Linked DNA regions of Homo sapiens. The protein of the gene in region 1 purifies or fractionates together with the protein of each later gene. This does not show direct contact. Each region holds a gene or a part of one and is shown in the gene's direction. Other genes may lie near its edges.

Region 1 (11,455 bases):
TTTCGTAGTTATTTTTGACACTTGTTTTGTTTCCTTCTTCAGAAAGATAGAAACCACTAAAGTTCAAAATGGCGGGGTCCCTCTCTTCATTGGAGGCAATCTGGAATTGAAGCAAAAGGAACAAATGTGTTAAAAGCCTGACTCTCTAGGTGTTGTATTTATAGGCCCTTTTAATTACTCTTACCATGACTTTTTTAGCTCAGGAGTGAGACCTATCCTCTGTTTTGTTTTATTGTTTTAAGTTTGTCAGAAAATTTATTGTTTCTAATATGTGGTCCTATACTAGTAATATCAGTATTATTTTTAAGGCAAATGGGTTAGCACATTTTCAAGAGTCACAGTCAGACTCTCAAGCTAGTGTGAGGTATTCAGAAGCCTTCACACCCAACAGCAAGTGACTAAGCATCTGAATTTCTGTTCAGGCTCCCTTTGCAGCCCTGTACCTCCGTTATGCCAATGCTCAGTGCAGCATTTGTGGATGAGAATTTGCCTGATGGGACTCACCTTCAGCCAGGAACCAAGTTTATCAAACACTGGAGGATGAAAAATACAGGAAATGTAAAGTGGAGTGCAGACACAAAGGTAATTTTTCCCACAAAATGCAAAGATGAGGTGATTTGAAGTGGCAGAGTGCTCAGCTGACAAGCTTGCTTTCTCTTCTTACTGTTCTTTTCAGCTCAAGTTCATGTGGGGAAACCTGACTTTGGCTTCCACAGAAAAGAAGGATGTTTTGGTTCCCTGCCTCAAGGCCGGCCATGTGGGAGTTGTATCTGTGGAGTTCATTGCCCCAGCCTTGGAGGGAACGTATACTTCCCATTGGCGTCTTTCTCACAAAGGCCAGCAATTTGGGCCTCGGGTCTGGTGCAGTATCATAGTAGATCCTTTCCCCTCCGAAGAGAGCCCTGATAACATTGAAAAGGGCATGATCAGCTCAAGCAAAACTGATGATCTCACCTGCCAGCAAGAGGTGAGCATTGACTGACAGGCTTTGGCCTAGTATCCAAATCTTAGTTAGAGAGGAGATGGCTAAAACTAAAAGAACCCACTCATAGCTGGTTGTTTTCCAGAAACCTTGAAAGGTTAGCATCTCCCCCCGCCCCAACACATCTCTATGCTGATATTTGGCCTCTTCCTTAGGGTGTTTGTTTTAGCGTCTTTAGGGTCTTGCTGCATACTGAATACTTTTGTACCTCTTTGTGATGTTGCATGGTCAGCCTGTTGGCTGCACAAGGGAAAAAGGGACTCCTGGCCTGGGCTGGCCTGTGGAACTGCTGAACTGATAGCTTTACTCCTTAACATCCATCTCTCCTGAAATACCCTGTGTATGTTCCCTAAATACTAATGAAGTCTTGCCCTGGTTGCTACTTAGTGAACAGTTTTTTAATGCAATTTCTCTGTATTAGTGGGGCAGAGTGTTTACTGCTTAAAGTTATCCAATGTTAATTTTCTGGTTTTGACTATTATAGTTAATATAAGTTATCGTCATTAGGGGAAGCTGGGGAATGTGAATTCTCTCTGCTGTTTTTACAACTTTTTCTATAACTGTAAAAATATATCAAAAACATTGTTTTTTAAAATATGGAGGTACAGCAGCGTTTTTATTTTTGGGGGCATTGTCAGCCTGCCTCTTCAGTTCTGTTGAAGGCCTAAAATTTGTCTCAATGGTTTGTCTCTATAGGAAACTTTTCTTCTGGCTAAAGAAGAAAGACAGCTTGGTGAAGTGACTGAGCAGACAGAAGGGACAGCAGCCTGCATCCCACAGAAGGCAAAAAATGTTGCCAGTGAGAGGGAGCTCTACATCCCATCTGTGGATCTTCTGACTGCCCAGGTGGAAGATTCAGCACTTTGAAGGGCAAGGGACAGAGGGAGAGAGCACAGGAGAGAAGGTGGTAGAGCCATAGGCAGTAATCAGGAAATCAGAGATATGCCCACTTTGATCTAGTCAGGTATATTTAATGGGAAGGAGATCACCCATGGAAGCAAGTTTGTAAACTAGATGTTTCCTCTTTGAATTGGGAACTCAATCCTGTACTTCCCCACAAACTCCCTTTAGTTGCCTCTTCACCTTGGCCTAGCTAATTCTCCTTCATACCTGCTGCATTTTCTCTTTCCTGCTATTGGGTTATTTCAACATCTAATTCCCATTTAACTCTTCTTGTTTTCACTTGTCTGGGGACAGGCATGAATTTGAACAGAGTTGAATACGAAATGATGTGGAAATGGTCTACAGGTCCCATCAAGACATGGCTCCAGCATGCACTCCAAACAGCCTAACATTGTCTTTTTTTATAGGACCTGCTGTCCTTTGAGCTGTTGGATATAAACATTGTTCAAGAGTTGGAGAGAGTGCCCCACAACACCCCTGTGGGTAAGAATGTCACTCATTTCATCTTGTTCGTCTTACTAATAGGCACAAAAGTACCACAGCCTAGACACTGGTAGTGTTTTATTCTGAGGAAATGGCAAGGATTTCTCCCACAGTAGGATAGTAAAGCAGCAATCATGGATCCGTTTTTCTTCTTTCCTGTCCTTTGTCAAAAGTAACAACATGCTGGGCATGGTGGCTCGTGTCTATAATCCCAGCTCTTTGGGAGGCCAAGGCAGGAGGATCACTTGAGGCCAGGGTTTGAGACCAGCCTGGGCAACATGGTGAAACCCCCATCTCTACAAAAATTACTTTTAAAAATTAGCTGGGTGTGGCCAGGCACGGTGGCTCACGCCTGTAATCCCAGCACTTTGGGAGGCTGAGACGGGCAGATCACCTGAGGTCGGGAGTTTGAGACCAGCCTGACCAACATGGAGAAACCCCTTCTCTACTAAAAATACAAAATTAGCTGGGCATGGTGGCACATGCCTGTAATCCGAACTACTCGGGAGGCTGAGGCGGGAGAATTGCTTGAACCCAGAAGGCGGAGGTTGTGGTGAGCTGAGATTGCACCATTGCACTCCAGCCAGGACAACAAGAGCAAAACTCCGTCTCAAAAAAAAAAAAAAAAAAAATTAGCTTGGCATGGTGGCCTGCACCTGTGGTCCCAGCTACCAGGGAGACTGAAGTGGGAGAATCTCCTGATCCCAGGAGGCAGAGGCTGCAGTGAGCCAGGATTGTGCCATTGCTCTCCAGCCTGGATGACAGAGTGAAACCCAATCTCAAAAAACAAACAAAAAAAAGAGGCTGGGCACGGTAGCTCACGCCTGTAATCCCAGCACTTTGGGAGGCCAAGGCTGGTGGATCACAAGGTCAGAAGTTCAAGACCAGCCTGGCCAAGATGGTGAAACCCCATCTCTACTAAAAATACAAAAATTAGCCAGGCATGGTGGCAGGTGCCTGTAATCCCAGCTACTCGGGAGGCTGAGGCAGAGAGTTGCTTGAACCTGGGAGGCGGAGGTTGCAGTGAGCCGAGATTGTGCCACTGCATTCTAGCCTGGGTGACAGAGCAAGACTGCATCTCAAAAAAAAAAAAAAAAGCAATAAAACAAGTTCGTGCAAGGCTTTTCCACTATAAAGGAATCCTCTTCTCTTTTTTCCCTCTAGATACTTGTGTCCTTTTGTTCCTTTATGTTCATGGTTTTGTGTCTTGGCCACAGCTTTCCAGGCTAAATAACTGTGATTCTTCCTGCATTGATTGATCTGAGATATTTTGCTTACTTATTGGTCTGGAGAAATTTTTTGTAACAGACCTCAAAGCATATCTTGGTTTATTTTAGCCCTGCGGGAGGCAAGAAGCCTACAAACTGCTACTTCTGGACACTGACTGTTGATGATATGATGCTTTCTCTTGATTGATGGTTCTCCTGTCTTCATTCTCCAGATGTGACTCCCTGCATGTCTCCTCTGCCACATGACAGTCCTTTAATAGAGAAGCCAGGCTTGGGGCAGATAGAGGAAGAGAATGAAGGGGCAGGATTTAAAGCACTTCCTGGTAAGGGATTAAACATTTGTAAAGTATTTGCATCCTCCCTTTCCATATCATACCCTATTTTACAGCTATCCCCTACTGACCCTACCTTAGCATGTAAATGGGCTTGCTTTCTGTAGCATCTCATGTTTTGAAGTCTCCTCACCTTCACATGGCACAGATAGCAGCTATTCCTTGGTTTAGTTTTAGCATGGGTAATGACTGGTGAATGTTCTTCAGCACTTTAAACACCAAGTGCAGACAAAGTTTAGATAGCAGCTATTCCTTGGTTTAGTTTTAGCATGGGTAATGACTGGTGAATGTTCCTCAGCACTTTAAACACCCAGTGCAGATAAGGTTCGTGTGTCTTTCAGATTCTATGGTGTCAGTAAAGAGGAAGGCTGAGAACATTGCTTCTGTGGAGGAAGCAGAAGAAGACCTGAGTGGGACCCAGTTTGTGTGTGAGACAGTAATCCGATCCCTTACCTTGGATGCTGCCCCAGACCACAACCCTCCTTGCAGACAGAAGTCCTTGCAGAGTGAGTGTCCTTGCATTTCCCCTACCTAGCAGGGTGGCACCTGAATTGTGACTGCCAGACTTGACTAGTTAGATGTGCTCTTCTTCACTGAGACTGAAGGGAGAGTGATCTTAGTTAGAAGTTCTGATCTTGGCGGGGCGTGGTGGCTCAAGCCTGTAATCCCAGCACTTTGGGAGGCCAAGGCAGGCGGATCACAAGGTCAGGAGATCAAGTCCATCCTGGCTAACATGGTGAAATCCCATCTCTACTAAAAATACAAAAAATTAGCCTGGCGACGTGGCGGGTGCCTGTAGTCCCAGCTACTCGGGAGGCTGAGGCAGGAGAATGGCATGAACCCGGGAGGCGGAGCTTGCAGTGAGCCAAGATTGCGCCACTGCACTCTAGCCTGGGCGACAAAGCGAGACTCCATCTCAAAAAAAAAAAAAGAAATTCTGATCTTGTTTGTGTCTTTAGACTCTACGTATGCTACCTGACTGTTCTAATTAGAGCATCAGGAGTAAAGAAGCCATCATACTCATTTCTCCATCTTCTCAGGGGCAGAATTACAGCTGCATTCCACAGTGGAATAGCAGCCAGTTGTGCTGCCTGGATTCTGCAGTAAGGAATCTTCCTGTAATTTGACAGAGCTCCTTAGCAGAGACCCCTATGGGTAGCTGAGTTGTCTGCTTTCTCCAAGGGCAGCAGTCCCAGAAACAGTGGATAGAAGCAGGAGTACCAACAAAGTTTCTCAAGGTTAAATTCTGCTGTAATAAATACCTTTATAGGCCGGGCACAGTGGCTCACCCTTGTAATCCTAGCACTTTATGAGGCTGAGGCGGGTGGATCACCTGAGGTTGGGAGTTCGAGACCAGCCTGACCGACATGGAGAAACCCCATCTCTACTAAAAATACTAAAAATTAGCCAGGTGTGGTGGCTACATGCCAAGGATTACATGCCTGTAATCCCAGGTACTTGGGAGGCTGAGGCAGGAGAATCACTTTAACCCGGGAGGCGAAGGCTGTGGTTAGCCGAGATGGCGCCATTGCACTCCAGCCTGGCAACAAGAGTGAAACTCCGTCTCAAAAAAAAAAAAAGGAATAAATACCTTTATAACAGAAACTTCTAGGTATCAGATAGATAGAACCAATAGCATATATTTTAAGAAGTATCCAAAAATTCAAATATACTATGTCAAAATAATATTGGAGAATCTCTTTATTATAATCAAATTTGACCTATATCTTTAAATATTATTTATCTTACTTTTGTTTAAAGTATACATGTAAGGCCAGGCGCAGTGGCTCACGCCTGTAATCCCAGCACTTTGTGAGGCCGAGGCGGACAGATCACAAGCTCAGGAGTTTGAGACCAGCCTGACCAACATGGAGAAACCCCATTTCTACTAAAAATACAAAAATTAGCTGGGCGTGGTAGCGTGTGCCTGTGATCCAGCTACTCAAGACGCTGAGGCAGGAGAACTGCTTGAACCCGGGAAGCCAAGGTTGCAGTGAGCTGAGATCGCACCACTGCACTCCAGCCTGGGTGACAGAGCGAGACTCCGTCTAAAAAAAAAAAATAATAAAGTGTACATGTGGCCAGGTGCGGTGGCTCATACCTGTAATCCCAGCACGTTGGGAGGCCGAGGTGGGCGGATCATGAGGTCAGGAGATGAAGACTATCCTGGCTAACACGGTGAAACCCCATCTCTACTAAAAATACAAAAAATAAGCTGGGTGTGGTGGCGGGCGCACCTGTAATCCCAGCTACTCGGGAGGCTGAGGCAGGAGAATGGCGTGAACCTGGGAGGTGCAGCTTGCAGTGAGCTGAGATCATGCTACTGCACTTCAGCCTGGGCAACAGAGTGAGACTCCATCTCAAATCAATCAGTCATGTATATCTTTATATTTTTTTCCACATGTGTGTACAAATACATAACAAAAAGGTCTGGAAAGACAGTACCAAAATGTTCACAGCTGTTATTCTGATAGGATTTATGGGTAATTTTTTTTTTTTTTTTGAGATAAGGTCTCACTCGCCCAGGCTAAAGTGCGAGTAGCAAGTTTATGGCTCATTGCAGCCACAACATCCTGGGGTCCCCCTACCTCTGTTTCCCAAGCAACTGGGACCACAGCCACATGCTACCACAATGAGCTAAATTTTTTTTTTTTTGTAGAGATGGGATTTCGCCACGTTGCCCAGGCTGGTCCCAAACTTCTGAGCTCAAGCAGTCTGCCTGCCTTGGCCTCCCAACGTGCTGGGATTTTAGGCGTAAGCCACCACACCTGGCCTGGGTAGCTTTTTTTTTTTTTGGGACACAGTCTCTGTCACCCAGGCTGGAGTGCAGCAGCGCGGTCTCGGCTGACTGCAACCTCCGCCTTCCCAGGTTCACACCATTCTCCTGCCTCAGCCTCCCGAGTAGCTGGCACTACAGGCGCCCGCCACCATGCCCGGGTAATTTTTTTGTATTTTTAGTAGAGATGGGGTTTCACCGTGTTAGCCAGGATGGCCTTGATATCCTGACCTCATGATCTGCCCACGTTGGCCTCCCAAAGTGCTGGGATTACAAGCGTGAGCCACCGTGCCTGGCCCTGGGTAGCTTTTTTCTATCCTTTTTTACCCTCTCAAACATGATTGGCCAGTTTTCTCCCATGACTGCATCATCTTTGTAAAGAAGAGGAGGAGATAGACATATAATCCTGCAATACTCATCTCCTAACTTTTTCTCTTTTTATAGCACTGTTAGTGTATCAGTTTTGGTTTAAACTCTACTCAGTATATTAACCATCACATAAAAAGGAAAAAAGGGATGGAGCTGCCTCCTTTTATGATTCATAGAGCTTCTTGGAAACCTGAGTGTTTCTGCCTACCTTGTTTCTGTGAGCTTTGATTCTATTTTGTTTTGCATAGTCTTCAAACTTAGAATATGGTCATAGTTCCAGAACCAGCCCTTCCCTTTAGTTCTTCCCTCTCCTCTGGCTTTCATAATTCTAGCTTATGATCCACAAGGCTTTACCAAGTAAGGATAGTACTTAGGCCTGCTTTTAGCTTCCACCTTAAAATTGGTTGCTTTCATCCTTTAGTGACATTTGCCTTGCCTGAAGGACCACTTGGAAATGAGAAGGAGGAGATTATCCATATCGCTGAGGAAGAAGCTGTCATGGAGGAGGAGGAGGATGAGGAGGATGAGGAGGAGGAGGATGAGCTCAAAGATGAAGTTCAAAGTCAGTCCTCTGCTTCCTCAGAGGATTACATCATCATCCTGCCTGAGTGCTTTGATACCAGCCGCCCCCTGGGGGATTCTATGTACAGCTCTGCGCTCTCACAGCCAGGCCTGGAGCGAGGTGCTGAAGGCAAGCCTGGGGTTGAGGCTGGGCAGGAACCAGCTGAGGCTGGGGAAAGACTCCCTGGAGGGGAGAACCAGCCACAGGAGCACAGCATAAGTGACATCCTCACGACCTCACAGACTCTGGAAACAGTGCCCCTAATCCCAGAGGTAGTGGAGCTTCCACCGTCACTGCCCAGGTACCACTCACAGCCCCCTCAGCTGGGGTGTTCTTCAGAGGTGAAATAAAGAGAGGAATCGACCTGATCTCAAAACCTGTTTTTTCCTCAGTATGGAAAGAGACTATTTTCCATAGCAAAGTCTGAATTTAGATGAATAAAAGTTGTATTTCCCAGTATTTGTGGATTCTGGATTTAAAGAAATATTTGTTTTAGTTGGCCTTAAATTATCTGAGTATAGTCTGTCTGCTTATATTTTGATTATTGAGAGCTGGTTGTGTTTTTTTTTTTTTTTTTTTGAGACAGGGTCTCAGTCTGTTGCCCAGGCTGGAGTGCAGTGGCACAATCTTGGCTCACTGCCACCTCTGCCTCTGAGGCTCAAGCAATCTTCCCACCTCAGCCCCCTGAGTAGCTGGGACTATAGGCATGGGCCACCACACCTAGCTAATTTTTGTATTTATTGTAGAAGCGGGGTTTTGCCACGTTGTCCAGGCTGGTCTTGAACTCCTGGCCTTAAGCGATCCAACTGCCTGGGTCTCCCAAAATGCTGGAATTACAGGTGTGAGCCACTATGCCTGGCTGAGAGCCAGTTTTTAAACACAAACATCCCTGGACCTTCCCTCCTTGTTTTATTGACTCTTCAGTAAAGGCAGCAAAAACTCAACCCAAACAGTCATAATTAGGAAGTTAAATCCATTATGGGAAAAAACACTATAAAACCAAACTAATTATTTTTAATTCTCTGGTGAATCTATCTGAATCATTCTTGTCTCCTAATAGTAGGGAAAATGCTGGAGCCTTGACTATAATGTAAACCATTCTCCCCAAAAGCTAGACATTTCCGTTTATTGACACCACTTGATATAGGTGGGGACATGACCAGACTGAAGCCAACATTTCTAGCTTGCCTGTGGCTAAAGAGGAAAATGGGGTAGAATGTAGCCCTTATGATGGAACCCTAAATCCAGACATGTGATCTGGATCAGAAATGTGAAGCCTCTGTAGAGAATTTGGCACTGCTGTGCTGTGTTTACTATTTCTCCACTGTTGCCATAAGTGCCTTTTCAATTTACTTTCCATATTGTGTCTTTCTGAAAGGAGCTCTCCTTGTGTACATCATCATGGTTCCCCAGGAGTGGATTTACCAGTTACCATACCAGAAGTTTCTTCAGTCCCTGATCAGATCAGAGGAGGTAATGATCAGCCTAAGCTTTTTCTCTTTTTCTCTGCTCCTGTCTAATGGAAACCAGGTATAAATAGCCTCTCTCTCTTCGTGATTCTTGGTGGTTTTTTGAAACTTGCCCTTCACAGGCCAGGCGTGGTGGCTCACACCTGTAATCCCAACACTTTGGGAGGCCAAGGCAGGCGGATCATAGGGTCAGGAGTTCGAGACCAGCCTGGCCAACATAGTGAAACCCTGTCTCTACTAAAAAATAGCAAAAATTAACCAGGCATGGTGGCGGGCACCTGTAATCCCAGCTACTTGGGAGGCTGAGGCAGGAGAATCACATGAACCTGGGAGGCGGAGGTTGGAGTGAGCCGAGATCGCACCATTGCTCTCCAGCCCGGGCAACAGTGCGAGACTCCGTCTGAAAAAAAAAAAAAAAAAACTTGCCCTTCACTCTCTCCATGCTCCTCCTGCATACTCTAATTTCTATTCTCTGGCTGAATATATTGTTAGACCTCATAGAGGTAGTGGAAAGAACACAGGCTTTGGAGCCAAACAATCTAGGTTCCAGCTCCATCTCCCCCTTTCCTGACTAGCAGTTCAGCAGGTTTCTAATGGCTGTGAGTCTGTTTTCTTACTACAAAATATATCAGTGTGTTAGGATTATAGAGTTGATTTTTCTGATTCAATAAACAATCATCTTGCATTGCATTTCTGGACAGTTTCTCCTTATCACTTAAACTACCCTTAAAACTTCCCAAATACTTTAAAAAAAAAAAAAAAAGACTTCAAACACTGTGATCAGATTGCCACCTGCCTCAATAATAGCCTTGCTGTGAGTTAGGAAACAGTAGGTGCTTATGGATGCTGCATCTAACCAACAGCTCTTTTGCTTTTAGAGCCCAGAGGCTCATCAGGACTTGTAAACAGCAGACAGAAGAGCTATGACCACTCAAGGTAACAACCTTGTGCAGTCTCTTTTTTCAGAAGCAGGTGGATATTCTTGTATTCCTTCTGCTTAAAAGAGCCTCTCACAGTATGTACCCATCTTCAGAGAGCAGAGAAGGGGAGCCTTTGTTCCGTCTTATTCTTGTTTCTTCTAAAGGCTTTGAGCAACACTGAACAAACGGCTAAAGCTGATGTTTAAGAGTGTTCTGTTTGGGAGGCCGAGGCGGGTGGATCATGAGGTCAGGAGTTCAAGATCAGCCTGGCCAACATAGCGAAACCCCATGTCTACTAAAAATACAAAAATTAGCCAGGCATGGTGGCGGGCACCTGTAATCCCAGCTACTCAGGAGGCTGAGGTGGGAGAATTGCTTGAACCCAGGAGGCGGAGGTTGCAGTGAGCTGAGATTGCACCATTGCACTCCAGCCTGGCTGACAAGTGAAACAACATCAAAAAAAAAAAAGAGTGTTTTATGTTTCAGACAAGGAAATAGTGTCCACAAATTACCTCACTCTTAGCACTGGGGAAAAGGTAGAAAGGTTAAGCCCAGTATACATTTAAATAATTTTTTCTTGGACATACCTGGTTCTCTGCTTCCACTCATATTAGGCCAGTGTCCAGAAAATCACATTTCCTTTGCAAGGTGTTTTCTCTGAGAGAATAATTGAGCAGACAAACTGTTGATATCCTTGTGTGTCCTCGATCACATTAATTTTCAGCTAGGAGTGAGAGCCATCATGGTTACCAGAGTGGTGTGTTTCCTGCAGTGCCCCTATCTTGCTTGCACCAGTAGAGCTGGGCCCTCCATCAAACCATGATCTGTAGCTATAAAGCTGATAATGAAAGCAATTGTGTTCTCTTTTTCCATCTAATTTTTTCTCTTAAGGAAATCTTATTCCAAGGATTAGAGCCCAGATTATCTTGTAAAAAGGTAATGATTTGTGTTTGTTTGGGGAGATAATTTGGTTTTCCTCTGCAGGCACCATCATGGGAGCAGCATTGCTGGAGGACTGGTGAAGGGGGCTTTGTCTGTTGCTGCCTCTGCATACAAGGCCCTGTTTGCTGGGCCACCAGTCACTGCACAGGTCAGTGTGTGTGTTTTATTTTCCTGAATCTCAACTCCATGTCACCAGTGAAAGTGATGGCATCTGTCTGGGTTGAAGAGTAACATGGCATTGTGGAAAGGGCATAGGCTTTAGATTTAGTCTTTAGTTAACACACAACACAACTCTGCCACTTTTTTTTTTTTTTTTTGAGACGAAGTCTCGCTCTGTTGCCCAGGCTGGGGTGCAGTGGCGCGATCTCGGCTCACTGCAAGCTCCACCTCCTGGGTTCACACCATTCTCCTGACTCAGCCTCCCGAGTAGCTGGGACTACAGGCGCCTGCCACTACACCCGGCTAATTTTTTGTATTTTTTAGTAGAG
Region 2 (11,455 bases), on another chromosome or scaffold:
GGAGGTGTCCATCCTGCTATTGCTCTGAGGGAGTATCGAAAGGTAAAACAAATTCTAATACGGTTCCTCACCCAAATAATATTATTTTAATACTTGATTTTTTTTTTTTTTTTTTGGAGACAGGACCTCATTCTGTTGCCCTGGCTGGAGTGCAGTGGCTCAGTCATAGCTCACTGCAACCTCAACCTCCCAGGCTTAAGTGATTCTCCCACCACAGCCTCCCAAGTAGCTGGAACTACAGGAGCGTGCCACCATGCCCACCTAATTTTTTGTAGGAATGGGGTTTCACCATGTTGCCCAGGCTGGTCTCAAACTCCTAGGCTCAAGCGATTCTCCAGCCTTGGCTTCCCAACGTGCTGGGATTACAGCCACCACACCTGGCCATTCTTGATTCTTATTCACTTATGTGTTTCAAAAAATGTTACTACAAGTAGTTCTGTATCTTATATAGGAGCCAGTGTCCGTTATAGACTCAGCAGTACTTAAAATAAGAAAAAGTATTGATTACACACATAAAATTTATTTTAACCAGTTTCCATTGCTAAACATTACTAAGAATATCCTTTGCAAACAGTATTTTTGGTAATAATCAGAATATTTGTTTTACCTTAGCTGTAAGTTTTTTTTAATAATTCAGTGTGCTCCTTGAAAAATTGAAAGTATTAGTGAGTTTTGCAAAAGGATTACATAAAATTAAAGCTATAATCTATGCTCTATGTTTTATGGACATATCTGTGTTCTAATCAGTATCCTCCAGTTGAGCTTTCTGAAATGACATAAATCTTCACTCTCCAATGTGGGTTGCCACTAATCACATGGGACTTTTGAGCACTTAAAATATGGCTAGTGTGACTAGAAGTAGAAATAGAACTTGTTGATGAAGAGTAGTGGTTCTCAAAGTGTGGTTTCCCTACCAGCAGTCTTAGCCTCACCTGCGACCGTATTAGAAATGCAAATTCCTGAGGCCCGTCAGAGACCTGCTGAATCAGAAACTCTGACGTTGGGACTGTGTTTTAACAAGCCCTCCAGAGGATTTCTGATGCAGGCTTAAGTTTGAAAGCTGCAGGTAAGGGAATAGTTTTGTTTTGTTTTGTTTTGTTTTTTTAAGAAATGGGGTCTCCATCACTGGAGTGCAATGGTGCTATCATAGCTTACTGTAACTTGAAATTCTGGCCTCCCAAAGCACTGAGATTACAGCCATGAGGCACTGCCCAACCAGGATAGAATGTAGAGTAAAGACTGTTTGGTTGTGAGTCCCGAGTCTTTCTCTTACTCTGTGTGGACCTGAGCAAATTATTTAACTGATCTACATCATAGTAAGTTACTTACCTCTTAGAGTTGTTTTAACAGTTACGGTAGATGTATTATTTAAACAGTGCATTGTAGTTTCTCATGTGTATACATTCAGTGATTGTTGGTTTTTCTCAAAAATTCAATTATTTTAATCTTACATTTAGCTGTAGAGGACAAGTTCTTACGTGGAACATGTGTATATCGCACATATCAAAGTCATCAGCCAAAAGTTGATCATCCCAGAGATATGTCCTTATATATACTCATACACACTGCCCCAGCATTTGATATGTTGATAAAAATATCTGGCACCCTTAATAACCTGACAGGTTTCATAAGTACAAAGTGCCTAGGCTGCTCAATAATGTACACTGCAGCCCATAGAACAAGTAAAGTAATTGAAGAGAGAAGTAGAAATTTCAGGCAGATTCTTATACAATTTTATTGTCCCTTCTTCTAAAACTCCCATATTCTAGCCTTAAAAGATTGACCCCCGCAAAAAAATGACTTTGTATTTAAAAAGCTCTGGTAGAGAAATGTTAAAGTGTTTTAATTTTGGAGGTATTTTGCATTTCCTTACATTTATGTTTTTAATATGTATTTTGGTCTTTTTCTACAGAAAATGGATATTCCAGCTAAATTGATTGTTTGTGGAATGACATCAAATGGTTTCACCATTGCAGACCCAGATGATAGAGGCATGTTGGATATGTGCGGCTTTGATACTGGAGCTCTGGATGTAATTCGAAATTTCACATTAGATATGATTTAACCATAAGCAGCAGCACGATCCAGAGATCCATTGCCATCAGTGATCTCACTAAAAATATACAGCTACTTCCCAGCTAATCTCCACCCAATGAATGATGATGGTATAGTATGTGCATAATGGAAAGTTACCTTACTGAAAAAAAAAAAAGAAGGAAAAATAAGATGGGCCCAAAGGTCTATCTACTAAACTAGCTCTTGGGGAAATAGCTTCAGGATACTGTAGTTTCCTCTATCTAATAGAGAACTTTTTGTTAACAGACACTGTAAAATAGTTTTGCTTTGTTGAATAATACGTGTGTACCTAAAAGAGGTAAGAGCAAAAAGTGTAATTCCACATCATGTTACTTGAGAAGTGCTTAACGTTTTCTTAAATGTTTTCATTGGGAAAGGACAGCTTTGATAATGTCCAAATACTCTGAAATGCACTAGACCATATAACTGTGATGAAATATGAAACTCATCTGTAAACTTTTATACCAAGGGGGTAAAAAAAAAAACTAAGGCATTTGATTAAATTATGAATGAGTTTTACAAATTCCTTTCAGAGTTTTACTAAGATCACACAAATAACAGCTTTCTTATTCAGTGAAAAAGATATTTTATTTCTGATGTTTTATTTGCACTTGTGGAATATGTTACCATTAATCAGAAACATCATGGCAACCCCTAAGAATAGACTAAGTTTGTGTTGGCTGAGGGATTCTATTTGGTTTGCTTTTTTTTTTTTGCTTTGTTATATTTTATTGCTACAAGGGGTGTGACTTGATAATGATTTCCTCTGAATTATAATAACATAGCCAGATGTAGTCTCACACTGTTTTTCATACTCTTAAGTGTAAATAATATAAAATGTTTCAAGCGCTTAACTCCCCCTCATTCACAAAGTATAACAATTAAAATCTCAACTATAACCAGTTTAGCTTTTTCCTTACTTTTAAAATAAAATTTTTTACTTTTAACTATTTTTTTAGTTAATATTTTTAAAAGTATACATGTCAATGGCCTCTTTGTCCATTATTCATTTTGTGGCAAAATATTCTTCTTTGATAGTGTAAACAAATAATAAAGCAATCTAGGTCCTTTAGGTTTGAAAGGCAATTTTTGAGTAGCATATTACCAGCTAGCCAGTCACTAGGAATTTTTTTCAGTATTATTTGTATGTATTAAACTTTTCATTACACTAAAGTGCATTATTTTATTGAGCAAGTATCCTTCATTGTGAGGTTTAACATTAAAGCAATCTGTTGAAATGCCATTATCTTTGCTCATAATTTTATTATGGCCGTCTAAGGTAGCTTACACATAAAACCTGTTTGCGTATCTGTTGTTCTCTAAATATTAATTGAAGATTTACTGAGGATTTGTAAGGTCCTTCTCGCTGTTATGTGAAAAGTCAAACTGTAGTTAATGTAAATTATAGCCTTTTAGGTGCTTGGGGGTTAGAGGGTTTATGTTTTTTGGGAAAGGGGGACTTTAGTAGTCTGAGGATTTCTGTACATATTTTCTTCTGTTTTATGTGAAATTTGGGCTCTGGGAATAAGAAAATATTCCTTTCAAATTTATTTGACATATTAATGCTGGTTTTGATATGTACCCATTCCTTCAAGGCAACTGGTATCAGTTTTTAAGTGTGATTTACCTGAGATATTTTTGTTCAGCAAAGCTCATAGCACCCTCACCCCCACTCCAGACATGCATTGCTTCTGATGTTGTTCACGTTTTTAACCCTGTCAAGCATTGAACTGAATATATTAGCTACTTTTGACACATTAAAATATTACGTTCAGATTGAATTTAAAGTTTAAAGAAACTAATAGAATTACGTAATAGTTATTGAATTGTTTAAGTAAACCCAAGATCTTAAAAATTATAACATGATCATTTTATTCCTAATAGAAATGTTAAATAGAATATAGTACAAAAGTGCATTACCTTCAGTTGTGTACTATTTCCATAATACTTTTAGACAAATATATCTATAAGTTAATATTAAATCCATCAAGGATACAAGATTGGATGGATATGACCTTTCTGAAGTATTTAGGTAGGTCTAATTAAATGGACTAGGGTAACATTTAAGAAAGAAAGGATAAGTAGGAGAAGCTACCACAGAAGGTAACTTTTCAAATCATGGCATATTTGAGCTGGAAGAAACCTTAGAAACCTAAAAGCTAATTTTTTAAATTTTTGTTAGAGAGCTGAGGTCCAAGACAGAGTGTGATTTTGAAGTACTATAACCTAGAAATCTTGGTCTCTTCATTCCTGTGCCAGAATTTATTTCCCCACAACATGGGAATACATGGTCTCAGAAGAGTAGAGGATAAAATAAAATTATTTAAGACTTTTACCTTATTGAGTTATTAGGAAATAATGTATATACGATTGCTTTAGGAGTAGAAAAATAGAATGGGAACATGTATAATCTTGTAATTCATAGGAATCCTCAAGCACAATTAACCTGTGTTGCTATATATATCTACATATATAGAGAAAAAACAAAAACTTTACCTCATTATGAATAAAATGTACTGAAGTGATAAGTTTTTTATTTCCTGAGTTACTTTTAGGATTACTGTTAAATTAATATTTGGGAAAATACTGCTTTTAAAAACAATCCTGCAAGAATAAACAAACTTTATTTCCTAGGTAGTATGTAAATAGTTCCAGGATATAGTTGTAATTAGTAAAACAAAAACTAATCTTATAATCCCACCCTTTATTAGTTGAAAGTTCTTGGAAATTCCATTTATTAATACTTATATTATTTAGTAATCTATCTTATGAGAGTGTTAGTGAGGCAAGATGCTAGTGAATGGAATTTAGTGTTACCCTTTGACACCTCCTTTGCTTTATCTAACTTACTGTGTGACTGTAGACAACCAGTTTAACCTAAGTGATTTGATTATTTTTATCCTTAAAAAGTAACATATCTGTGCTTGGATCATAGAAGAATCAGTGATTTAATATTTGTATAAAAATTGAAACTGGGAAGAGGGCTTGCAATACAAGTTAGAATTCTTTTTTTTTTTGGTTAAAAACATTCTTGTTAATAAGATACGTATTTCAAAAGATAAAATGTTTTAGAAAAATAGCTCACTCAATAGGCCTAACAGTGTTTTAAAACATTCCTGTTCAGAGTAGAAAAATTTAGAAGAAAAATTTTCACAGCTAAAGTATTACCCAAAAAGTCACTATTCTCTACTGAAGAGGGAGAAAAAATATACTCCAAGATCTTCTTGGACAGACCTAGAAAAACAAGCTTATACTCTGAGGAAATGCTGTTAACAAACTTTTTTTTTTGAGACAGGCTATCCCTCTGTCACCCAGGCTGGAGTGGCATGATCACAGCTCACTGCAGCCTTGACCTCCCAAGTTCAAGTGATCTTCCCAAGTAGCCAGGAACACTGGTGTGCACTGCACTACCACGCCTGCTTTTTTTTTTTTTTTTTTTTTTTTTTTTTTTAAGAGACAACGTCTCACTGTGTTGCCCAGGCTGGTGTCAAACTCCTGGGCTCAAGGGATCTTCCTGCCTTGGCCTCCCGAAGTGCTGGAATTAGAGGCATGAGCCACTGCACCCAGCCAGCAAACATTCTCTTAATCTTTTAAAGTAACCAGTAAATCTACAAATAGTAAAGTACTATTTTCATCAGGGATTTTTTTTTTCTTATTTTCTAGATTTTACAGAAACAATGTGAAATTATTTTGGAAAGATAAGGTAGGATTCTTGAATAAATCTGAAGGTCTCACAATTAAGTGAGAAACACCTTTAAAAGCATAGTAAAGCTACACCTAAATAACTAAAGCCTAAATCATTGTAATGTTTTGTTGGACTTACTTTAACTTGACCTGTTGTAGCCACAAATAACAAATTTCTTGGTAACTGATGCTATTACAGTAGGTAATCAAAAATGAAAAATTCTAGTCTTATATACTGCAGGTTTGGGGTGATTGTTAAGGCACTATCCCCTCTGGAGAAATGTCATATGGCATCAGTGTAAACATGCACAAGAAAGAATTTGTAAAAAAAAATGACAGGTTAATCAATGAAATTAGTTGTATTTACTGTTTGGATTTTATTTAGTGTTTCCTTGATGTCTGTTTCCTCATCTCTTATTTGTTGGAAGATTACTTTTCTACCTCTTTTTTTTCTTTTAAAATTCCTTTCTTACATTTCTGTTGTTTCTTTTTCTAGTCCTTCTCTATCTGGATAATAAAATGAATGACAGGAAAGTCACCCACATAGAGGTTTGGGATGAACCTTTTGCAGATTGCTTTTTGTTTCATACAAGTATAAGATCATATTTTCTTTTTCAACTTAGTAATAGGCAGGCTTCTTGGAACAATAAGTAGATTGATACACTCCTCCCCAAATCAAATTATATTGTATATCTTTTATATTAGATGTTTGCAGAAATTCTGTGGCCTTTAAGATCAGTTATTCAGCCTTTGTAATTATGTTATCTAGCTATGTTGAAAAGATAAGTGCTTACTATATAAGCACTCTTAGAAAAATAATTAACTGATTACTCTTTCAGAAAATAGCAGGTGTCTCAATGCTTTTTTTCCATAATTATAAAGACCATTGTCAAAATCTTTGGTTTACTAAATATTTCACTGAGCATATATAGAGATACGTTGCTTGTGGCATAAAAAGTCTTGTAGATAACTTACTCACATTTGGCTTTTTTTTAATTGGTGCATTTTTTAATTTGCTTTTTTGAAAATTATGAAGTTAAAATTTAATTCTAAGGTAGTATTTTTCATGTATAAAACTAATAATGTAGTTAAGCATACTGTTTGAATAAAATTATAATAAATGGCACAATTCCTTAAACCCTGAAAATACCAAGTTATATTGGAAAATAGTGGAAAGAAAAAACTAGTGGAGAACATCTTAGAAAATTCTATTGTGGAAATTACGATGATTATTTTCAGTGAGAATGAATTTATATATACAACAAAAATATACAAAAGCTAACCTTCTCATCCTAAAAAGATTTTTCCCTTTGCTTCTGTTTTATTTAGCCCTGCCATGCACCACATTAATTTTATGAACATAAATGATATTTAACTTTTCTTTTTTTTTTTTTTTTTGAGACAGAGTCTCACTCCGTCACCAGGCTGGAGTGCGGTGGCGCGATCTCAGCTCACTGCAACCTCCATTTCCCAGGTTCAAGCAATTCTCCTGCCTCAGCCTCCCAAGTAGCTGGGATTACAGGCACGCGCCACCACGCCCACCTAATTTTTGTATTTTTAGTAGAGACGGGGTTTCACCATGTTGGTCAGGCTGGCCTCGATCTCGTGACCTCGTGATCTGTCCGCCTCGGCCTTCCAAAGTGCTAGGATTACAGGCGTGAGCCACCGCACCTGGCCAACTTTTCATCTTAAGTTGTTTAAATTTATGCACTTTTAGATATCAGAATATATGCTTGAACAAAGGAAATAGTAAATTAGCTATATGTCTGCTGGTTTCACTTCGATGTGGATATGGATATGTGGATAAAGACAGTAAATGAAATTAAAACCCTGCTGTTTTAAATATCATTACCAGATATAATTGAGGGAATATTATATCAACAAACATATTGAAACTTGGCTTTATTTGTAACGTAAACTATATATAATCCATACGTAGCCAAATTAGATTTAAAATATACAATTAATGAATAGTACTCAAAGTGTTTTTGTTGCACTGTTACTCTGAATATGGACTCTCTATATCTGGTATGGCGTGACTGGGCATAACTTCTGTAATGTATTTCAGTTATATGTTTTTCCTTTTATTGCCAGCTTCTGATAATGAAATTTTCCAAAGGGATGAGATATAAGAATCATCTTTTATAAAAACCAGTGGGGAGTGGGGTATTATAATCTAGTTCTAAACTGTCCATTTGCTTTATATAAAGGCTTTGATTTCAATAACTGACCATTTGATGAATATTTAAATTACACAGAATAATGTCTACATAGAATAAACTTAAGTATTCAAGAGCCTTAAAGTGAAAAAATGAACCTTTTGACTGCCTTAAAATACTACTTGCTCTGTAATTCAGGCATACTAGTTACTTTCCTTGGGGTCTGTTTAAATAATGCCTTAATAGTGTTCTAATGTTTCTGAAATACAGAACTCAAAGGGTCTTTTAGAGCTTTTAATTTTACATAGTGAATGGAAATTTAAGTATTACATTTTAAAACCTGATTGTACATTGGTAATTTAAACATCCAATAACAGGAAAATCTAGATACAGTGATGTGTTATACATACATGACTGTTAACATCAGTAATATTTTATGATAGTTTAAGGTTTTTTATTGTTTTCTATAACAAGTTATCCAACAGGTTGGACTTTGTAACATGATATCCAAGGACCAAGTTGCATATTTAACATCGAATGAAAATGTAGTTGTACAGTTCCAAAAATAATTAATTTTTTAAGGGAATTTTTCAAGACAAAAGGCAAATATTTTGTTTCAAACCTACAAGCAAATTCATTCCAAGAAGTGAATATAGTAGTAAAACATAAAGACTATTGCAATAAAAAGTTTCCAGGCCAGTGACTTGTTTAATTACATTCACATTTTTACATTCACTTTGCCTTTCAAAGCAGGAGTATTTTATAAAACTGAAATAAAACTTTAAATTGTCAAGCTGGTGCTTAAAGTTATGTAAAATCTGATTTAAGTTTATTTCATTTCCAAGGAAAGGACCCTGAAAGGAGGGGACAGGGAGCTTCCTAGGTCTGTTGATAAACTAACTGATGCTTTGTCAAGTCTTCCAAGTTTTCACTGTAAATAATACAACTAACAATGTAATTTTGCTGTTTTCTAATAGAGAATGAATGAATATATTAATGTATTACATTTGTTTCATGATAAAACAGTTTTCACTGATACTGTGAAATCCTTTCTCTCCTTTCTAGCCTTGCAAAATACCCTACTAAATAAATCATTTTAGACATGGAGTGCAGGTGGACACTGTGTGAACTGTTTTTGGTCAGTTATTGTAGAAATTGATAGATGTACCAAATAAACTCTATGCACATTAAACAAGTGTCTGTCTATCTCTTTCAAGAAATACGAATGTTAAGGTTATAATATGCCTTAAAAAATCTAAAGCCTTTAGTAATCTTGTATTTGAACAAGGTAAAATTTAAGTTTTGATAATTAATATTGACCTTTTAATGTATCTAGTTTTATGTAAGTATTAAAAGTATATGAAGTTAAAGATTCTTTACCCATGGAATTCAATTATAACAAAATGATTAGATTTAATGAAAACAAATTATTTAAAGTTTTAAAATAGGATTCTTTTGTGAAAAGATCTACTCAAAATTGCCTTTGGCAAAAGTTATCATCCAAACACAAAAAGTCAACTATGCAAATAAAAACACTGTTTCAGTGCCAATTTGCAGACATTTTTCTCTCAATTCCCATAAAAATTTTCTGAAAAGTTCTAAGATCTGAACTGTGGGTAACTGAAAGCAAGTTACATCAGAATATATTCACCAAAACTTCAAAACATTTGGTTGATTTTACAGCACTCATTTCAACACTTGTACAAGAAGGATCACAAATTATACATACTAGATTTAATAAATTTTAACAATATTAAACCTTATGAAGAAAACCTGACTTTAAAAGATGTTGTTCAAATGGTAATTTTTTATCAGTAAACAGTAAAATCCAGGTACAGAAGATCCCTTTTTTTCTTCAACAGCTTTTCAATTACAGATATTTTGGCAATTAAAATGTAAATTGATTATCTAATGATAAAGTGAAAAATGGCCTAGTTTTTTATATTAATGAACTCCAGTAAACAGCTCGTATTTCAGATCTTAAAATAAAGGGCCGGGCATTGTGGCTTACACCTGTAATCATAGCACTTCAGGAGGCCAAAGGAGGAGGACTGCTTGAGCCTAGGAGTTCAAAACTAAAAAGTTGTAACTATGGGGATCTTGCTGGGCAACACAGTAAGACCCCCATATTTACAAAAAACTAAAAAGAATTAGTTGAGCATGGTGGCATGTGCCTGTAGCCCTAGCTATTCAGAAGGCTACGGTAGGAGGATCACTTCAGCCCAGGAGTTTGAGGCTGCAGTGAGCCATGATAGAGCCACTGTTCTCCATCCTGGGCTACAGAGGGAGACCCTGTCTCAAAAAAAAAAAAAAAAATGTAAATAAAAAATGTAAAAATAAGGACTGAGGAAAAAAATTACAAGTTTTTCTTAGTCACCATTATCTTACTTTTATCCAGCTGTAAGGTATGGAAAGGGAGAAGAAATGGAAATCAATATCCAAGACAACACGAAACCCCAGAGGCTTCCCCTGCCCCCTAAATTCTTGGCTGGGTACAGGCAGGAATCTTGGAAAACCCTGATGGGTCCACAAGAAAACACACATACCTGAACCATTGTGATTAATGATAGCCATTATGTATTGTCTATTAAAAACCACTCTGAAAGATTTACATGTATTATCTCCATTCCTCAAAAAGTAAATCCTAAAGGAAAGTACTATTACCTACATTTTATAAGAAACTTGAAGTTCTGGGAGGTTAAGTCACCTACCTAATGGTTACACCTTTAGTGATCTGAACGCTTGTCTGTCTTGGCAAATCATCAGCTATGCTCTGAAAGTATATTACGAATTTTTTTAACTGAAGATTTAGTGGTGGTATGCTGTGGTCTCCTATCTAAATCTTTCTCCCTTAACCCCCAGCTTTGTAACCAGCCCCTTGCATACAGTTAAAACTAAAGCTGTTGGCATTCCACGATTGGCACTGTCAGTAAGGGAGCTGCTGGCTTCAGTGCTTCCCTATATCCTTGGATTCTGCTCCTGGTTTTGTTTTCCTCTTGGAGAGTCCCTATACTTTTTAAAACCTGCTTAGCCTTGCATTTTTAAAAATTTATTATTGTGTCCGATATTTTAAACGTTTTAGAGCGGCAAGCTTTTGTTATTATTGTTTTGGGGTTTTTTTCAAAGATATTTAATGTGCCATATGACAAAAAGAGGTCAGATTTATTGTTATTTTCTTTCATTCCTTAGCGTTTAACAAATAGGAGAGATCTGCTTCCTTTTTGATGCAGTGCTAAACCCTCCAAAGTAAAAATCTTTTATTAGTCAATGAGTTTAATTCAGAAGACTAAGATGCAGATATTAGAAGGGTTTATTTCTTCTATTTTAAATAAAGCCATAGTGAGAATCAGGTATCATATTACCTTCAGTAGAGTTTTTGAGGCTTTTGATAAGGCTTCTCTCCCTAATGTTGAATTCTTTCAAGATCTGAACATAATCAAGAACGAACCACCACTCGCCTCTCACCCTATGTCCTACCAGTCTAGGAAGCATTGATAAAAGATGTTTCTTCACAGGCCAGGTGCAGTGGCTCATGC
Region 3 (9,062 bases), on another chromosome or scaffold:
TCTTAGGCCAGGGGGCTTTTATTTTGGTTTTTGGACTTGAAGTGCAGATAATTGCATTAATTGCTCTTTTCAGCTTCTAACATATTGTCATTATAGAGTTTTTCATGGTTCTTTATTCTGTTTCTTCTTTTCCTCCAGTTCCCACTTTCACTCCAGCGCCACATTTTAGGCATCCTGTTGAGTGTGTTTGACTTCCTTAAAAGCTATATGTATCCTTGTGCAAAGTTAGTGTTAGTGTAGTGATCTTTGTTGGTGTTGGTGTGTGTGTCTGTATGTATGCTTTTTTTTTTTTTTTTATTGAGATGGAGTCTTGCTCTGTCCCCCAGGCTGGAGTGCAGTGGCATGATCTCAGCTCACTGCAACCTCCGCCTCCTGGGTTCAAGTAATTTTCCTGCCTCAGCCTCCCCAGTAGCTGGGATTACAGATGCACACCAGCATGCCCAGCTAATTTTTGTATTTTTAGTAAAGATGGGGTTTTGCCATGTTGGCCAGGCTGGTCTTGAACTCCTGACCTCAGGTGATCCACCTGTCTCACCCTCCCAAAGTGCTGGGATTATAGGCATGAGCCACCACACCCGGCCATCTATATGCTTTTAATGTAAATGGATTTTTTTTTCCTGCTTCCTCCTTAACACTGTGTTTTTGAGATTCATCCAAGTTGTCTGTACATCTAGTTTGTTGCATCTTTTTGCTGCATAGTAGTTCATGGAATACTCCCAACATCCTATCCAATATTTGGTTTATAGTTACCTTCTTTCTTTTTTCCATTTTGATGGAAAAGTAATATTTTACTAACATTTTCATTTGCATCTCTCTAATTGCTAGCCAGTAACTACTTCGTATATCTTTTAGCCTTTCAGTCCTCTTGTGAATTTTCTGTTCACCTCCTTTGCCCTTTTTTCTCTAGGTTTCCTGTCTTTTTCTTCTTGATAGAAATTGTAGCAAATTCTTTGCATGTTCTAGATCTGAATCCCTTGTTGGTTTTAGATGTGTATATTTTCCCCAGCTCCATCAGATGTCAGTTAATGTTGCCCATGCTGTCATGGTTGAACAGAAATCTGTCATTTTGATGTAATCATATCTATTAATTGTTGAGCCAATGAAGTATGATTTGGGGGTCTTATTTAAGAAGGTTTTCCTTAAAGTTTGGTGGAATGCTTTGTCTTTCCTATAGCATAGTTCCTAGTTGTCTCTCTGGGTTTGACACTAGGTTTGCCCTCTGAGTCCCTGGGCTGGGCCCACTGAACTCTGTGGCTGTTTACTGTTCCCAGTGGCAGAAAGGCACTATTGCCTCTGGCTTTGTATTACTTTGGGTGAGCACAAAGGCCTGACCTCATTCAGGCTGCTGGAGTGTTGGAGCTAGGGGAGAGGGGTGGGGTGGGGGAAAGAGAGGTGGGCATCTGGCCCAGTCCCCTCCTGTCCCCTAGGCTTGTAGTGGCGGTGGAGGAGGCCTTCACTCACATTAAGCGGCTGCAGGAAGAGGAGCAGAAAAACCCCAGGGAGGTGATGGACCCCCGGGAGGCAGCCCAAGCCATCTTTGCATCCATGGCCCGTGCCATGCAGAAGTACCTTCGGACCACCAAGCAGCAGCCCTACCACACCATGGAGAGCATCCTGCAGCACCTTGAATTCTGCATCACGCATGACATGACGCCCAAGGTAGGCCTGCCCTGCTGCCAGCATCCTTCCTCCTTCCCCAGCTCCTCTTCTTTCCCACCTTCATTTTCCCTTATTCTCTCACTACTTTCCTCACTGTCCACCTCATTTCTCTCTCCTCACCACCTCCTTTTTATAATCTTCTCTCTCATTCCTATTCCACCTGCCCCATCTGTGTGGGGTGAAGTCTTTAGGTAGATGAGGAGAAGGGAGTCCTCAGGACCATTTTGGGGATGGCTGAGACTTATTTCTCATCTCTATGAGGGCTCCGGAATTACCAGATCCAAAGGCCCACTTTCACCTCCATTACCCTCTTCACCTCCACTAGCTGGTCTTGGCTTTGTGTCATTTTGAGCCATTGCCCACCTTCAACTCTATTGCCAGCTTCCTAGAATTGCTTTCCCTGAGCCACCCTTGGTGAGCAGGTAACTAAAGATGTTGCACTTTAACCTTGACACCTTTGGCTCCCTCCTGGTGCAGACCTGCTTGGCACGAATCATACAAGCTGTGTGGGAAGGAAGGAAGAATGAGGGAGGGCTTGCCCAGGTCACAGCCTGGTGCAGGGAGAAGAGCAGCAGATGGGGGTCAGGGGAGCCGAGTTCAGTCCTACCTGATGAGCCACATCCCCCTGTGCACTCCGGCTTCTTCATTTATAAAATGAGGGTCTGAAGCAGATGATCTCAGGCCCCTTCCTGCTGTAACATTCTGAGGTTCTAGTTCATATGCATAGAGTGAGCTCAGGGACGTCCTTCTTGTCTTTGGAAACTATGACCTAGGGGATGAAGGACCGTGGGTAGATGACAGAGATTCTTATGCAGCCCCTTCTTTCCACTTCAGGCCTTCTTGGAGCGATACTTGGCGGCTGGACCTACCATCCAGTACCACAAGGAACGCTGGCTGGCCAAACAGTGGACATTGGTGAGCGAGGAGCCGGTGACCAACGGCCTCAAGGATGGCATCGTTTTCCTCTTAAAACGCCAGGACTTCAGCCTGGTGGTCAGCACCAAGAAGGTCCCATTCTTCAAACTCTCCGAGGAATTTGTGGATCCCAAGTCACACAAGTTTGTCATGAGGCTGCAGTCTGAGACCTCAGTGTGACTGTGCAACAGCAGGGGGAGTGGGAAACTCTGGGGGGTCCTGAGGGGGTGGGAGGGGGCTTGGTTCTCAGGCCCAGCCACATTCCTGCCACCCTTCTTCTTCTTGCTCTTTTTTTTTTACTTGAATTAACGCACCCCCACCTTCTCTCCTCGCTTCTTCCTTATTTTACCCCATGTGAACCTGGAGAGACCATCCTGCTGTCAACAGTACCTGGGAAGGACTCCCACCTCACCAACAACTTTTGTATTACTCTAGGCCCTGCAGGAATCAGTGCCTCTCTCCCTCTTCTTTCCCTAGTCTTTTCCCAGATTACAGTCTCTCCTGAAAGGGCACAGGGCCCTGCTGATTGTACTTTCCCCTCCTGAGCCCCGACTCACAAATCCAAGTTCTTAAAACATTTCTCTTCAGTGGCCCAACAGGGTTTCTCTGGGGCACATGGACATGACTCCAGAGAGCCACAGTGCCAAACTCCTCCAGGGCAGCAACTGGCCCTCCTGTCCCTCACCCCAGCCACAACAAACCCTGGGTTCTAGGGCAGGGATACTCCTGCCACACAGCCCGAGTTAGAAATCTCCTTGCTAGGAGCATTTGCTTCCACATATATTTAGAGCAAAGAAGGATCCCATCCTTTTCCCAGAAATCTCCACCTAATGTTTTTGGTTTGTATGGTCACGTGACCATAGGCAACCACGTGGAAACCCTCTGTGACCACTTTTCCAGGGACTTAGGGGAAGGTACCTTTCTTCCAATGTGTCTTCCTAGGCAGCCCCTGAGGAGGAGGGCTGAATAGATCCCTGAGGTTTTGGAGAGACCCCCATCACTGACTCCTGCTCCCTAACCCTACCCTCACTTTCGTCCCCGCTCTTCCCAGTGAAGGATGGTATGTAGACTCCTGTACAGACATAGTGGCTTGCAGACCCTGACCCAGCCCCTGTGGTCTTAGACAAATGTTTTTATTTTTGTCACCAGCCACCCCTGTCCTGCCGCCTTCTCTCGACTCCAGAGACCTGTTGCCTCATCTCTTTTGGGGAAGAGCCGGCAGCTCCTCCTCATCCCCTGCCTTAAGTCCAGTTCTTTGCCTCAGGGGTCTCGTTTCCTTGGCCTTCCAGGGTCCCCACCCCTTTTCTCCCTGCCTGATTCTCTGAGCTCTGGGCTCCGTCTGTATTGGGTTGAGGGGCAAGGATTACTGCCTTTTGTAGGTACTTCACCCCTCACCCCATTTTAGCTTCCATAGTCTTTGCACCAAATCCAAATTCTTGATAATTTAGATCTCATTTTGAGCAAAATTTGCTGGCCCTCTAATAAATATTTTCAATATAAATCTGAGCCTTTGACTCAGACATTTTTGCCAAGGAGAGTAGAATTAGGAAGTACCCATATACATCCAGCCAGGATCCACATGGAGGACCTTTCTGATGGCTGCAATGACTAGGCCATTCCTCTGAGTAACTCACAGTGTCCTTTTGTAGGCCCTTCTTTTCCCTGAAAGACTGGTTGGTACTTACCTTGCAGAGCACATCCTGGGATAAGATCCCCAGTGTCTCCCCTGGGAGGCTCCCCCTCTGTGTAGCACCAGCCCTGGGAATGATGGAGCCTAGTGATCGGGGTTTCTCCTGCTGTCCTTTCTGCAAAAGTTCACTTGTTTACCCACCGCATGCTAGAGAGGAGCTCATTGGCCAATGCTTACCTTGTCCCCAAAGGGGTGGGTTGTGGAGCTCACTTAGGCAGGGCCTCTGGCTGGGGCCAGGGTTATGAGATAGGCCTGTATGAAATATGTCCTGTTCTGGGGGTCTGTCTCTTTTCTTCTCTTCAAAAACTTTGTGTCAGAGAGTCCCTTCTGAGTCACATAAATACCTCACTATCCTGGAAAACAGGGCCTGGATGGTGACTGGGGTCATTGCCTTTGTGGACAGGATGGAGTGTGGTGTGGTCTGAGGAGCAGGTTGGGGTGGGGGAGAGGGAAAGGATTTGGGATCTTAGTTGCTGCCCTAGGTTAGGGGCTGGGGAGTGTTTATTTTAAGATCCTGCCATGTTTTTAATCACTGTGATTTTTTTTTCATTCCCCTTTCCTAAAAAAAATTTTTTGCCTCCAACTCTCTAAGCACTAAGGGCTGTGCCTGAGAATGGTAGCATTTTGGTCTTTTGCTTCAGAACTGTGGTATCTTTGTCTTTTTTCATTATTATTATTATTATTATTATTATTATTACTATTGTTTTTTAAAATGTCAGGATGAATTGTCAGACATATGGCCATGTGTTTGTCCTCTGCTTCTCCCCTGTGGGAAGTTGTCTCCATGCTGTGAACTGCTGTGGGGTGTGCAGCTGACTCAGTCCCTCTGAGCAGTTTCCCCACTGTGTCTGTCCCATCATGCGCTGGATCTGCTCATTCTCCTGCTGTGGGGGTATGCCCACCTCTTACCCCCTTGACACCATAGGGCTGCTGTGGCTGGGCCTCACCAGCACTGTCTTTTGTGTGACTCATGGCATCCTCGTTCATCCCCACCGTGCCTAGCAGGCCTTCCTTTTCACCACCTCGGAACGCTTGCCTTTCCTCCCTCCACAACAGGACGCTGTGCCTCAGTCCTTCACCTACCTCGCCACTCTGCCACTGTCCCCATTGGTCCTTTCTCCTAAACTGGTCTTTGTGCTCTCTTTGTTTTTTCTTATTTCCCTCTTGTCTCTCATTTTTTCTTCCCATTCCCCTCCCATTTCAGCCCTTAACTTTTCTCTTTCCCATCTCCACTCAGTATTCCAATGGCAAACCCTGATGATGTAACACCTGCGATGAGACATCGGACTCTCCGGAACTTTCTCATCTGACACGTCTTTTTCCCAGGGTTCGTACTTCTCCTCCATTGGTCCCAGGCTAACTCCCCTGTTCCTCTGTGGTGTCTGTCAGTCCGTCTGTCTTCTCTTTCCTCTGCCCTTCCCACAGGGCAGTATCTGCTGATGGATTCAGTCCTGGTGTGTGATTGTTGTGATTTGTTCTTCCGTGCGCAAAAGGAAGAGGGCTTTTTGAGTCCCTTCCAAGTGAGATTGTAAATGTAGAATTTTCCACTGTTGGATCTAGATTTTTTTTCCTTTTTTTTGGGGGGGTGGGGTTACAGAGCTGAGACCTTGTGCATGCATGTAGAAAATTGTAAAATGTAAATTTTTTTTAATATATAAAAAGCTTGTTTCTACAGTTTGCAGTGGATCTAAACATTACGGCAATTTTAGGATTTTTTTCTTAAACATAGGAACTAAAACTGTACAAATTTTTTTTATATAAAATAAAGACATTTGACTTTTGTGGGGGCATTCTGTTGCTTTTCTTTCTTTACAGGAATGGGAGCAAATGAGGGCCAGGGAATAATGAATATATTCCTTGTTAGGGAGGGAATGGGCAGGAGGGGGCAGTGTGAGCTCATCATTGCTCTGCAGGCCTTCAGGGTGTGTTGGAGAGAAATGGGAAAATGAAAAAGGAAATTGCTTATTCTGAATCCTGATTCTAAAGAGAGAGAAACAACAATGTGAGGGCTTAACCACTTCCTGGTGTAGTTGTCAGGATAGAGAAAGAAAGATTACTTCCTGGGTCCACCCTCCTGAGCAAGCTTGTGTCTGTATGGCCTCTAGGGCAGGAGTGGGTTTCTAAAACGTATTTCTAAAACATAAAGTGCCATAGGAATTTCAGGGGATAGTTGAGATTTCAGTCAGTGGTGACAGCCCATCACAATTCATTGAGACAAGTTTCTGTAGTATATATATTAGTTCTAAATATGTAGAGAGTTCAGTGCTCTGTTGTCACTGTAATGCATGTAATCAGGTACTAAAATCACCCTCAAGAGATTGGGTCCCTTCTCCCAGTCTTACCTGGGCCTGACCTCTGTGACTTTGGGCAAGATGCTTAGCATGTAAACAGCCTGCTAAGGTTAAAAACAAGCATTTCTGTATGGAGGTGGCCTATTCACTAGATTTCCTCCTCCTCTCCCCTGCCTCATACTCTGCCAGGCTCTGGGGATGCAAAGGCAAGAGAGGCTCCATCCTGGAGGATGACCCAGTTTACAGGGGTGACAGGCTGGGTGACCCTAGTGCAAGGCTTCATGGCGTGTTCTCAGGCAGAGTGTAGACAAACCCTGGCTGGATTCCAAGGAGCTCGGGGAGTTTCCTTCAAGAAATCTAGGAAGTTTGTTTAAGACTCAAGATGGGGGAACACACTCACCTTGAGATTACATTTTGTTCATCTAAGTATTCCTAGAATTGAAACCAGTTCCTCGCATATAGTTGGTCCTCAATAAAAAATTGTTGCATGAATAATGAACTGAACAACTAACAATACAATAGGGGCTCATGAAAGGGATCATATACTTGCTTCTCCCTTTAAAATTGCACTCCAGTCTTTCTCATGTGAAAACAAACAAAAATACTTCCCTTGAAATTGCATCCCCATTCTCACGGCTCTGTTCTTTCTGTAACTAGGTTTGTAGAATAGTTTCACTTGCTGTTTCCAGTTCATTTCAGAGTCAACTTGTGACTTACATTGTGACCAAATTTCTACCTTAGCATGCCTCTGAAATTATTCTTGTTCTCAACAGCCAAGTATAGTAAACACCTTTTAAGTTTATTCTTTATTTAGTGCCTATGATGTTCCCAGCCTGATACTAAAGTACTTTCTCTGGTAAAGATACTGGATATGGTCCTGCCCTCACTGAGCTAACCTTGGTGGACCCTTGAGAAGGCTAGTTAACCTCAGGGACCTCCTCTTGTAATGCTGGCCCCAGGAATTCATAGATTTAAAGCCAGACCTCAATATTTGATTGATAAGATCATATTTTCTCTAGAGGTTTGCTGCAAGCAAAAGTGATAATCCTGACCATTTGTCAGGCAGCAAAGGGTATTTGTAACTTTTGTTTGAAAGGATGTGTTTTCCACAGAAGTTCTTCACATAGCACTGAAGTTAGGGACCCAGCTTGGTGGATTGTCAGGGTCATGCCTGGGACTTCATGACATTATATGTGATTATATGTGATTACATATGCTGCCCATGTGTGATTTTTGTTTTTTAGCCTTTGCCTTTGAAATACAGCCGAGAGGGGGAACTGGGGGCTGGGGCTCTGGCTGAGGAGACATAAAGATCTTTAGACCAAGGTCTCAGTGATTTGTTATTAGTTTTTTATTTTTTAATTTTAATTTTTTTGTTACTATTTTTTTTTGTTTGTTTGGGATAGTTTAATGGCTTCTACAGACTGAAAGTCAGCTTGCTTAAGGTAACCCTTGGCTTTTTTGTTACTTTAAGCATATGATAGTAATGCTCTTCCAATTGCCAGGAAGGCTGGGGTAGGGGAAAGTCAGCCTTTGGAAAAGCACTGCAGCATTAGTGTACACATGGTCATGGAAGATGCTAGAGAGATAATAAAGGACCACCTACATAGTAAATCTTGGAGAATAGTCATCCCTGTCTAGCTCCCCAGTTTCTTTTCAGGCTGAGAATGGGGTCCATTTCTCTTGGTACAAACGGCAGGGCAGACATGACATCCTACCTGCTCATAACAGTGAATGCCACATTTGAGTATGTAGAATAGTGGGAGAAGGTACTGGTTTAGAGTTGGGAAACCTGGCCAAGGCATTGGCTTCTCTCATTTCATCTCAGCAAGTTTTGGGGGCACACTTACTGTGTGGTAGGCATTGTGATACAAAGATAAATAAAACATTGGCCCCCTCCCCTTGGAGCTCATGGGACTTTTGCTAGATAAGTTGGGAAATTTTATTTTGTCATATGTTGTAGGCAACCCGAGGAAGCACACTATTTTCCTGGAGGTGGTAAATACCATCTGTAAAAGGCAGACTGAAGCCAACAGTGTGTGAGGGTATTGAGCCTGATATGTAAACTATTTTGATGTCACTTGTCAAAAATAGCCATCTGTACTCTGATATCCTGTAAGGGGAATGACTTTGGTTATAAGGTTATAAAAATTAGGAGTATGGCTGGGCGCAGTGGCTCACGCTTATAATCTCAGCACTTTGGGAGGCCGAGGCGGGTGGATCACCTGAGGTCAGGAGTTCGCGACTAGCCTGGCCAAGATGGTAAAACCACGTCTCTACTAATAATACAAAAATTAGCTGGGCGTGGTGGCACATGCCTGTAATCTCAGCTACTTGGGAGGCTGAGGCAGGAGAATCACTTGAACCCGGGAGGCAGAGGTTGTGGTGAGCCGAGATTGGGCCACTGCACTCCAGCCTGGGTGATAAGAGTGAAACTCTGTCTCAAAAAAAAAGAAAAGAAAGAAAAGAAAAAAGAAAAAAAAAATTAGGAGTATGAGATCTTCGGT

The links.
Region 2: the proteins of NBR1 (region 1) and RO60 purify together in Homo sapiens (affinity purification with mass spectrometry; 2 studies listed by BioGRID and IntAct, with this or other methods). This does not show direct contact.
Region 3: the proteins of NBR1 (region 1) and VANGL2 purify together in Homo sapiens (affinity purification with western blotting, with the first as the bait; 2 studies listed by BioGRID). This does not show direct contact.

What each region holds. Positions count from the first base shown.
Region 1 is NC_000017.11:43,192,672-43,204,126, forward strand, and holds part of NBR1 (next to BRCA1 gene 1 protein), read left to right. Parts: intron 1-422; coding exon 423-582; intron 583-676; coding exon 677-967; intron 968-1,678; coding exon 1,679-1,828; intron 1,829-2,292; coding exon 2,293-2,368; intron 2,369-3,809; coding exon 3,810-3,920; intron 3,921-4,270; coding exon 4,271-4,435; intron 4,436-7,495; coding exon 7,496-7,937; intron 7,938-9,014; coding exon 9,015-9,109; intron 9,110-9,983; coding exon 9,984-10,041; intron 10,042-11,009; coding exon 11,010-11,115; intron 11,116-11,455. UniProt on the Homo sapiens protein: Ubiquitin-binding autophagy adapter that participates in different processes including host defense or intracellular homeostasis.
Region 2 is NC_000001.11:193,082,667-193,094,121, forward strand, and holds the end of RO60 (RNA-binding protein RO60), read left to right. Parts: coding exon 1-42; intron 43-1,912; coding exon 1,913-2,065; 3' UTR 2,066-2,322; coding exon of another isoform or gene 2,323-2,336; 3' UTR 2,337-8,553; downstream 8,554-11,455. UniProt on the Homo sapiens protein: RNA-binding protein that binds to misfolded non-coding RNAs, pre-5S rRNA, and several small cytoplasmic RNA molecules known as Y RNAs.
Region 3 is NC_000001.11:160,422,625-160,431,686, forward strand, and holds the end of VANGL2 (vang-like protein 2), read left to right. Parts: intron 1-1,427; coding exon 1,428-1,659; intron 1,660-2,493; coding exon 2,494-2,754; 3' UTR 2,755-6,046; downstream 6,047-9,062. UniProt on the Homo sapiens protein: Involved in the control of early morphogenesis and patterning of both axial midline structures and the development of neural plate. Plays a role in the regulation of planar cell polarity, particularly in the orientation of stereociliary bundles in the cochlea.